2 separate regions of the Homo sapiens genome follow, and region 2 is linked to region 1. The links come from fine-mapping of genetic effects on gene expression. A gene starts in region 1. The other region holds a variant in brackets. All regions are shown on one strand. Distances are from middle to middle.

Region 1 (5,344 bases):
ACTAGCTAGAGAATGAAATTACAAAAAAACCCCAGCACAAACTTTAGGAAACTGTTTGAAAACATTAAAATAGGATGGGACAGCACTCACTTACTCAATGATATTCATCAAACAAAACAGAAAAAGGATTCAGCTTGACCACTTAGGAAGCCAAAGGAATGTTATCTAGATCTCTTGGAGGCCGCAAGACTCATCTTACAGATGGGAAGGGCTTTGAATCATTGTCCTCCTTTATCCAGGTAGACACCAAAAACAATTTCCTGCAAACTAACGACTCTCCGGTCAGTCTGCAGGATTCTTAAGGAGATCGTTACAATGCAATATGCTGCGTGCTTAATTTGTGTTCAGAAAGGCCTTGCACAATCACTCAGGCTTATTTTTGCTCTAAGGACAAATGAGGAGAAGCAAGGCCTAATACAGGCTGGAACAGGTATGTCAACCTCATTAGGATGGCCTGGGGGGTCATGTCCCTGGAATCAGTGCCACACTGAACTGCAAACTAACCTGCCAACCCTGTATCTGGAAACCACTTTTGTAGGACAGCTGTTCTCTCATTCCTTTTGCTTAGATCATAAAAGTAGAGTTTTCATCCATTGGGAATTTGTGTGTTAGACGCGAAGGGAATCAGATTCTGATCCAACTTGGTCAGGAAAAAAAAAAATAAGGGCTGATTTTTCCATCCAAGTCATGTAGTCTGGTTGGAGTGCATCCCACTCAGGGACAGCTATTGTCTGGATTCACCGAGTCTCAGTCTTGCCCGGGAAAAAGGAATTTTTCGCCTCACTGCTCTGTCCGTGAGAAGAGTTGCAGAAGGTGACCATTTCTGTTTTCTGGGTGATTCTCTTTCTCTATAGAAATCCTAAAATGGAACCTTTATAGAAATTATGTTCTGTGCTTCGCTGGAGAGAGACTGGTCTTTTTAACCAGGCTCATCAAACAGTGGGCATTTTCGTTCTCCTGGATAATAAGTGTTGGTGGGTTAATGGGTCATCCTCAGGACAGAGGTCAGAAGGAAAAACACTGCAGTGTTCAAAGCTGGAGCTAGAAATGCCAGCCGTCAAAGAACACAGAACTCAGTGGACGGTGATGATGTATAGGGCGTGCACTGGCCAACCCCATCCGAGAGGTCACATCTAACCTTTATCCTCAGCAAAGCCACTGAAGGTCGCTCAATATGTGTGACCCGCAACTCTGAGGCCCTGGTGAGAAGCTGTCCAGGAAAACGCTGGTGCGTGTGCTAGAGGGTTCCTTTTCACTAAGGGAGAATTGTCTTCCAGCTCCTTGCAGACTGACATCGCAAAGTACTTTGAACGTTGAAAAGAACAAAAAAAGCAAACAGTCACACACACACAAAAAGTAGGCGGGAGGAGGGGGAAAGAAAAAGGGACAGAGAGAGAGAGAGGTATCAGCAGGGGTGGTTAGTAAAAAGGGGCCCGGAGACAGAAAACCTTTTGTTCCCGGAGTTCGTTTCATGTAGAGATTGTGAGGTGAATGGCTTTGAAACGAAATGGGTTTATGAAGGAGTTGCTAGGTCACAGGAAGCGCGACTGTCAGACTGCTTTTGTGAATTCAGTTTCTTTAAAATTTGGGTTAATCTTAAAAAGAATGTATCTCCTTTTCCTGTTCTTTCTCTTTCTGTCTTCTTTTTTGGCGGGGGCGGGAGGACAGAGTAAGGTTCAGGACGGTTCCCCACTTTCTGTTTTATTTTCCACCGTCTGATAAAGCAAAAAGAAGCGATCACATTACAAGTTCTTTGTCAGTTTTTCAGAATTAGGGGTGGGCAGGGCCTGAGCATTACCTTGTCCCACTAGCCAATGGCGGGGCGGCATGCAAATGAGGTCCGCGATCAGCCTGCCTCAGTCACAACAGTGAGCTCAGAGACTTGAGGGAGGCGCTGCGACTGACAAGCGGCTCTGCCCGGGACCTTCTCGCTTTCATCTAGCGCTGCACTCAATGGAGGGGCGGGCACCGCAGTGCTTAATGCTGTCTTAACTAGTGTAGGAAAACGGCTCAACCCACCGCTGCCGAAATGAAGTATAAGGTAAGAGAGTGCCTTTTACAGGTTACCTTGCAAGCTGAAAGCTGTGCCTGCGGGTGTGTGCTTGTGTATGCGTGTTCCTTACTGTCAGTCCCTTGTGTGTCCCGGAGAGTTCTAAGATGAGTCTCGGTCACTGAGGTTGACATGCAAGCAGACAAGCAAGCAGAGACCCGGTCTTTGAGACCCACTCCAGGGGTTCACAGTACACCCGAGTCCATCTGCTCTGAAAGTTGCCGGGGAAATACCTCGGTGAGAAGTTAAGACTTGGAGCCGCTTCACAGCAGCCACTGGAGATCAGAGGGTGTCTGACTTGAATCGCGGCAGGCATTGGCTCAAGTCTCCTTGGCTTCCCCAGGCCTGGCTTCCACTGCCCTGGGGAACTGTAATGAGAGGAATGAGGACTGCATAGTCTGTCTCAGACTGGCTCTTAGTGCAAAGTTTTCCAGACTTTGCTTTAATCGTTTGGTCTCGGAAGGAGTATGCCATATGCACTTTTGGTGGGAGAAATTAAAAGCCCAGATTACACAGCTGAGGATGGAAAATTTTGACATCCTTATGTTATATTGGATGTAGGAATAAATAAGTATGAGCCATTTCTTGAAAACATTTTTATTGGAGTTTGAATGGGGTGAGAGTGCGAAGGCTCAGGCTGGCTCATTGTGCCTGAAAGCTTACAGAGTGTCATAGTCATAGTACTTCAGCAGCATTATTTTCCAATGCATTTTACACCATTGTTTGTGGATTTTTCTTGCCAAAAGGATTTTTGACTTGCTCCGTATATTCCCCCCTCCCCTTTTTCTTTTAAGTCACTCCCATCTAAGGAGGCAAGCAGCTTCCAGGGGACACAAAGAAAGCAGACTGCAATGAATTGGACATGAATTTTTCTTGAATGATGAATAGACATGAGTGCTAGTGCTACTATTTTATTTTATGCTATTTTAAACAAAAGTGTTATTATTAAGATGGATTTGGGCAAGGGTGCTAGGCTTGTGGATTGACAATTTATATTAACTGTACACTAGCTGGAAGCTACTTCGCTTTTTTTCTAAATTTTTCTGGTCCATCCTTTTTTGATGTAAGGTTGTAAATACTTGGTCTAACTGATAGCCACTGACTAGCCTCAGTAATAAAGCTTTTGTTCAAAAACTATGAATCTTATTCAAAAGCTTTAAGTCTAAATGTCAAAAGTCTTTATAGTAATGCCTACGTTACCACTGTCTGAAGACACAGGTATCAGCTATTTCTGTTTCATCAGCTTTCTATTATCTTCATCAGTAGGGAAGATCAGAGGAAAGGGTCATCCTGAAGACTATTAATATTTGACTTTAGGATGCAACCAGAAACAAATCCCTCTACTTGGCAGGAAAGTTATCTTCCTTAAAGTGGCTCACCCCATATTTCCTTATTTAGAACAATGATAGGACCAGATATTACTCAGCCTGGAGTGACTTTTTTGCTCCTCCTTTCCCTGTTGTTGAATAAGAACTGGCTTGCAGAAAAAAGAGAAAGTATGTTCATATGTCTATTATTGGAAAGTATAAATGGCTGAAATTAACATTGAGTGCTATAATCTAGAAAGTGACGAAAGCGACAAAGTCTCAAGTCACTTTTATTCAATGATCTCATCGTGGTTAGCTTTACTCTTTATGGAAAGAAAATCTAAAGGCAACTGATAAAGTGACTGACAGCGTAAACTGCGATTGGCATTCATGGAGAAACCTGCTTCTCCACTGGGCCTTACTGGTGTTGAACACCTTGCCAAATGATGTAAATACATGATTTTTATTACCTTGTAGGCACCTTCACCAGCAAAAAAGCTAACTTCTCCGACCGAACACATGACTTATGCCCTATGATGACTATTAAATCAACCAATAGCTGAAGAAATCCACTTTCCTTTTTTATAAAGTTTTCTTTCTCTCTAGTTAATAATGAACAACTTTACTTCAGGAAAGGATTTTGTTATTGTAAGTAGAGGAGAGACACAAAAGTAATGAAGTAACATTAATTGAGACTTACTGTGACAACACAAGATTGTCATATTCAACTCTCCCAATAGCTCTACAAGGTGGGTATTATTTTTATACTCAATTTCAAATGACACAGAGAGGCTAAGTAATTTATCTAATGCCACACAGCTAGAAAGTGGTGAGCTGGGATTAGAACTAAGGCGATCTGGCTCCAGAACTCATGACTTTAACCACTATTAAGAGAAAGAGAAAGAGCTATCGTTGACCTCTCTAAAATATGGCCAGTGTTTTCTTCTCCCAGAAAGTTTAAGACTATTTCATCCCAAGTATTCCTGCAGGATAATTTCTTTTTAAGATAGTAACTCTACAAAGCAAAATGAAGTGCATGTTTGGCAGTTATTTGTTTAATTCGAGCCACTTAGGTAGTAAAACCAGATAATTATTAGATGGTAAAATCCCAGAGACAGGAATTATCTCTAAAATACTACGTTGCTCTATGCACTGTAAATTTAGCACAAACCTTAAAATGTTTACTGAAAGACTTATGAATCAGGCCCTATAAGATTGTCGTTGTTAACCTGATTATCTGGTTTGGCTGCCCCAGGGATCACAACTACGGAACAACAAACCTTCACTTATTTTGCACTTAATATACATAGCTTCAGGCCAGGCAGCAAGGTACTTGCAGTAATCCTGAGAACTGTGGAATGTAAGCTATTACTCCGGACAGACATTTCTGGTTAGCACTTATCTAATCTGTCTTTATTTCCCTGTATGTTTTTATTTGTCCACAGGAAGGTTGCAGTCACTGTCATACGTACTTAATTTTCCATTTCTCTTAGAAGGGATTCAGTCTGTGGTTATGTGATAGTAAATTACGGGGGCTTCATTTATTAAGAATTTTCTACAAAATCCCCTTCATATACAGAGCATGTTCTTAATTGGGCGGGGGCTGGCGGGGTTAGGTGATTGCCTCGATGGCCTTGGTTTGCTTACCCAGTGAAGGCTCCCTCCTGAGGGTCTGGAGGTGTATGGTTGTGCTGTTTCCCAGGAGGGTGATGGAAGGGTCTCTGCGCAGCTGTGTTTGAGCAGAAGCCCCCGAGACCCCACCCCGTTTGTGCCTGCCAGGCCCGAGGCCCCGCCCACCTCAGGCCCAGCCCGGGCGGGGGCTCAGCGGCCCCTTGGCCTGGCTGCTAATGGCTGAGCAGAGACGCTTTTGTGGCTTTGCCAAATTTCTGAGCCCTTACGTGCCTACATTAAAATTCTAAATTATTTATCTCGTCTACCATGCAACAAATTCATTCTTTAACGTTTTGACTGAAGAAAAATTACAGAC
Region 2 (5,379 bases), 120 kb before region 1:
CTCACCACTAAGAAGATGAACTTTAAGAATTGCACAGTTTGCCTCTCCCCCATGATAATATGCATAGCTAAGCCACAGCAAGGCTACCTTTCTCATTCTTGCTGCCTGCCGATGGTGTGATCTTAGCCCCTCTCTCAGTATTTGAATTTCCTCGGTCTTTATGAATGGTAAGAGTTGTTTAAGTCTCTCCTTGCAACACTCCGCCACCCACCATTCATCCCATAATCTTTCACATGGAAGACTGCATGTATTTTGTAAAACCAGGGGGAAAAGTCCTGATTCTAAATCAAGAGGCAATTATTAAGAGTGGCACGCAGGTCATTTTTCTTCCTTCCTCCAACCACCCTGTCAACCACCACCCGCCATGTTCACAAAAGCCTCCAAGGCTACCTACAAGAAAATACCCAGCTTTCCTCTAGGGTGACTTGACTCTTCAAACTGCTTCTCAGTGGAAAACTTTTTAAACGCTCCGTTTTATTTATTCTCTAACAGTTTTCCTGTTAACTAGGTTTGGAGGTGTTTTCTGAAACATGAATGCCATTAATCCAACACCAAAAAGATTCCAGAACTTTCCAGGGCACACATGGCCAAGCCTTCCAGACCAGTTTGCACTGGAGGAGCGTTCTGCACTGGCAGGCGTTTCTGCAGCTTCTGACATCAGGGAAAAGGTGTTATTCCTACAGTGCTGCTGACGTTATGTAACAGCAGAGCCATTGCTTTTTTTTTTTTTTTTTTTTTTTTTTTGACGGAGTCTTGCTCTGTCGCCAGGCTGGGAGTGCAGTGGCGTGATCTCAGCTCACTGCAACCTCCGCCTTCCGGATTCAAGCGATTCCCCTGCCTCAGCCTCCCGAGTAGCTGGGACTACAGGCATGCAGCACGCACGCCCGGCTAATTTTTTGTATTTTAGTAGAGACGGGGTTTCACCATGTTGGCCAGGATGATCTCGATCTCCTGACCTCGTGATCCGCCCGCCTTGGCCTCCCAAAGTGCTGAGATTACAGGCGTGAGCCACCATGCGGCCCCATAGCTTCTTTAGTTGAATGGCTGCCTCTGGAGGCGGGACCCACAGGGACTGCCTGGGTGGAAGAAAGGCAGGGAAGGCTGCTTTCACTCATCACCGCAGACTCACTGCCATTCAGCTAGGCCGATCTTGTAGAACTGACGTAGAAAAGATTACTTCTCCATAAGTATAGGTTCTGGTCAGAACCAAACTCTCTTTCCAAGGACTGCTTCCTGCCTGTTTGTGCACACATCTTGTTTTCTTAGGGTCATTGGGACTGAATACTAATTAATCGAGGTCTGCATGATCAGCACCGAAGCAAGCGCCTGAAAAGAGAGTGAATCTTTTTTAAAAGTTACTTTATTATTTGTATTTATTTTCTGGGTGTTGTTTCTGATTCCAAGTAGTTACATAAAAGTTGCAAAGCCAGTTAAACACCCTCTGAATGTTCCTGCAGAACTTGGACTGGGCGCTCCCTATTTAGAGGTTAATAATGGTCAGTGGCTTTCTCTTCCTTTCTAACTTTATTTGGGGTGTGCCTAGCCTTGAGATCTGGGTTGTGGCCATGAATAGGTCTCTGTAGTCCAAGAAACATTTCTCAGACTACGGAAGATGTGTGGAAAGACAGTGCCAAGCTGCCTGCCGCTGTGGCAGCACCAACGGAGAAGAAAAACAAGCCAAAGGATGCGGGTGTGATCAGGGCCTGCGCAGGGGTTGGAGTGGTCATTTGGGGCTTCCAGAGGGATAATGACAAGTTTATCCACAGGAGTAAAGGGTTAGAGCAGCCAGAAGACGCTTGTGTAATGTCCCAGCAAATCAATTTAAAGACTTAAATATGACAACATGCTAAAGAAAGCCTGGAAGGAATTGGTGGGTGAAAAGGAAATCTGCCGGCCTTCAAAAGTGAAAAACGAAGCAAAATGGAGCTCCAAAAAATGGTGGCTCAACGAGACCCCAGTGGGCTTGGCTAGAGGCTCCGGAACAGAAGGCCTCAGTCACCTCATTGTATTCAGCACAGTCTCTAAAGCTGAGAGCAGGAAATCCTGTTGCCCCACCCATGTCCTCAGCTGAGGTCCCATGAGACAATATTCCTTAGATACCAGCAGAAACTTTTCTTACATGCGAAGGGGTGTAATTCACAATATTCTTTAGAAAGATGGTTGAAAGGTCACGTCATTCAGGCCATAAAACATTTATCCACACATTTATTCATCAATAATTTACTGAGTGCTATACCAGGGGGAGGGGAAAGGGTGGGGGGGGTGGGTTATGATGATGCCAACGATTAAAGAGACCAGTCAAGACACTCAAGTGAGCCTGTGGTCTAAAATGATGCTACTGAAGGTGGCAGATGCCCACCTGGGAGTATCTTAGGAATGCAAATTCCAGCCCCGCCCAGCCTTACTGAAACAGAAACCCTGGGGGTGGTGCCCAGCCATCTGTGTTTTAACAAGCTTTCCTGATGCACGGAAAATTTAAGATGTATGGGAACATGGTGTCTCAAACAATGATGTGTCCTGGCCATTTGCGAGATGTGTGGAAAGTAATATATTATTAATGATAGTTAGCATACCGACATTTGTGAATAATTTATATGTATGTCACCTGCAAAGATTTTGTAAAAATACAGATCCCTGGCTCCACCCAATTCCAACGGAGTAGAAATATCCAGGTGTGGCAGGCAGTATTTAGTTTTAAGACTTCCCAGGTGACTCTTAGGATCCGTCAGGTGTGGGAACCAGTGGTCTATAAGAGCCATTTGCCCCATAACAAAGAGAAAAAATCATGGAATTCTAGAGGGTGGTCCCTCGGAGAGCAGGTTTCCCCACTCCCCTAACAAATGTTAGGCAGATCTCAATTGAAACACATACAAGAGAAACTCCAACTGCAGCAGAAATGGAGTGGAGGTTGCTTCATACTTTCCTTTCTGCAGTGGCTGTTGCAGCTCTTAGTAAAAATCTAGAGCTCTCGGCCGGGCATGGTGGCTCACGCCTGCAATCCCAGGACTTTGGGAGGCCAAGGTGGGCAGATCACGAGGTCAGGAGATCGAGACCATCCTGGCTAACACGGTGAAACCCCGTCTCTACTAAAAAATACAAAAAATTAGCCGGGCGTGGTGGCGGGTGCCTGTAGTCCCAGCTACTGGGGAGGCTGAGGCAGGAGAATGGTGTGAACACAGGAGGCGGAGCTTGCAGTGAGCGGAGATCGCGCCACTGCCCTCCAGCCTGGGCGACAGAG[C/T]GAGACTCTGTCTCAAAAAAATAATTAAAAAAAAAAACCTAAAGCTCTCAAAAATATGGTTTGAAAAGCATGGATGTTTCTATCACCACCTCCTCCTCCTGCCACATACGCCCCATTCATTGATGAAGAAACCAAGGCTCAGAAAAGTAAAATGACCTGAAAACATGTGACTGACCATTCAGGTCTGCCCAAGACTAAAGGCATCCCAGAAATTAGAGCGTTCAGTTTTAAAACAGGGACAGTCCCAGACCAACCAGGATGAATTCGTCACCCTAGGTCGGAGACTTCACGACACCCACAGTTCTTGCGTTTTGGCTGATTTATTATTGTTGTTGTTGTTGCTATTATACCATATTACTGCAAGAAGAATTCAAATTACTATTGGTTTTTAATTTTTTTTTAAATTTTTCTAGCCCCTTGAGAAGTTCTTACTAAATTACTATGGTTTCCTTTTAAAAACCATATTTGTTTTTATTCCCTCATTCCAGAAGGATTTAAGGGAGTAATACCCTTATTTTATGTGTTTTGAAATACTTGTAAGTATTCTAAAATACTCTGGACTATTCCTGTGTCCATGTCTCCTCTATCTGACTTCAGACCCACCATACCATATGCATTTTCTCTTTGGCTTCCATATATTTGTGTGATGTTTGCTATGGCACCTACTGTGCCCTACTGAGATCTGTGTATTAGTCAGAACTCTTTAGCTTGCCAGTAAAAGAAAACAAAAGGATGGAGTATGTCAGCTTGGGTAGCAGAAAAGAGCTTCAGGCACAAGTGGATACAGGGGCTCCACCTCATCAGGACATGGTCCCTCTTTGAACCCATAGCAAGATGGTCACATGCAGCTCCACACACCCGCATCCTCCCAGCAACCCAGCTGACGGCATCTTGTCCCCAGTAGCTTTTGTAAAAGTCCCTAGGATGAACTCTGTTTGGGCTGACTTGTGCTATGACCCTTCCCTAAACCAGTTGCAGCCCCCAGGACAATGGAATACTCTGATTGTCCAGACTGTGGCCATGCACCCACCCCTGGCACCAGGGTCTAAGAAGAGAGAAATGCAAGTCTCCCAAAAGAAAGTCAAAAGATGGTTCCTAGAAGCAGAGGAGGAACAGATGCTGGGTAGGTGAAAACAGCAAATGTCCATGGTAGTCTTAAACAGTTCAAGAGGGCTGACCAACTGATTGGCTGATGCACGGGCAACAGCATGCAGCTCCATGTCTTCCTCTATCCCCACTCTGCTGAGATCTAGGTACTATTTTCCCCTGAAACACTAGGTTGCAAGACTCCAAGGTCACCATTGTCAGTTCTAATTTTGAAGACACGCACCACATTTAGCTGAAGCTAGCAGCAGCCCCAGAACCCATGGGACTCCATCCGAAAAATGATAAGCCCTTTGCTGGGCTCCCAAATATGGAGCTCCTGAGAGTGAGGAGCTGGTGACTCATGTTCTCTGTGCTTTGGTTGCCCCCACGTTTTCCAGCTGGGTTGGTGACGTGGGACTCAGTACTTTCTTCAATGCGTCCTGTACACAAAGAATAAATAGCCCCAGAGCTCTTTCTTTTTCTTCCTGCCTTTCTTCCTGTAATTCATTCTCAGCCCAACTCAGCTTTGTTCAAACCACAGTATTTCACATTGCCTGGCAAGTTCTGACACAGCTGCTTGCTTTATTCTTTCAGTCTTCTGTTAAGCCAGAGGTAAAGTTATACCTTGTGGCTAATTTTTAGTCTGTAAACCTTATCCCTTGTTCAAGCCGAAATCTTAGATTAATCAGCATGAAAATGCCAGCTCCCCCAAGACCGTTGAATTATGGCCCCCATCACTCTTCCTGCCCTGACATTCATTTGAGTCCCTTTCAACTTTTACAAGTTGTTTTCTCTTATCCATGAGCAAGGTGGTGGCTTGGGCCTTTTTAGGCAATTTTCTTTTCTTCTTAATCACCTGCCCCTATTCCATCCAATCTATTTCAATTTCTATATAATCATGTAATACATCTCTAATTTGAGTCACCAGGTTTTCCACGTTAAAGGTGGGCTTTAGGAATGTTTATTTTACAAACTAATAGAACTTCCAGTCCTATGGACTCTAACTAGTAGTGGGGCCACTGTGTCAGCTTCCCAGAGCTGCTGTTACAAAGTAC

What was found. PIP is the estimated chance that this variant, and not a neighbour inherited with it, causes the effect.
Region 2: its variant is the best candidate, but not a certain one, in a credible set for the expression of NEDD9 in whole blood (TOPMed, PIP 0.55).

What each region holds. Positions count from the first base shown.
Region 1 is chr6:11,229,201-11,234,544 of GRCh38, reverse strand. NEDD9 (neural precursor cell expressed, developmentally down-regulated 9) reads left to right here and starts at 1,877. Exons shown (of 7, transcript NM_006403.4): 1 at 1,877-2,041. The coding sequence starts at 2,030. It overlaps LOC124901256 (a long non-coding RNA gene), which reads left to right and starts at 3,835. Exons shown (of 2, transcript XR_007059449.1): 1 at 3,835-4,106. RefSeq lists silencers at 1,790-1,839, 2,320-2,369.
Region 2 is chr6:11,353,612-11,358,990 of GRCh38, reverse strand. It overlaps a transcript of NEDD9 not described here. Among named protein-coding and RNA genes, the nearest start is that of NEDD9, 120 kb to the right of the region's middle. The variant C/T (reference allele first, on the strand shown) is at 3,239.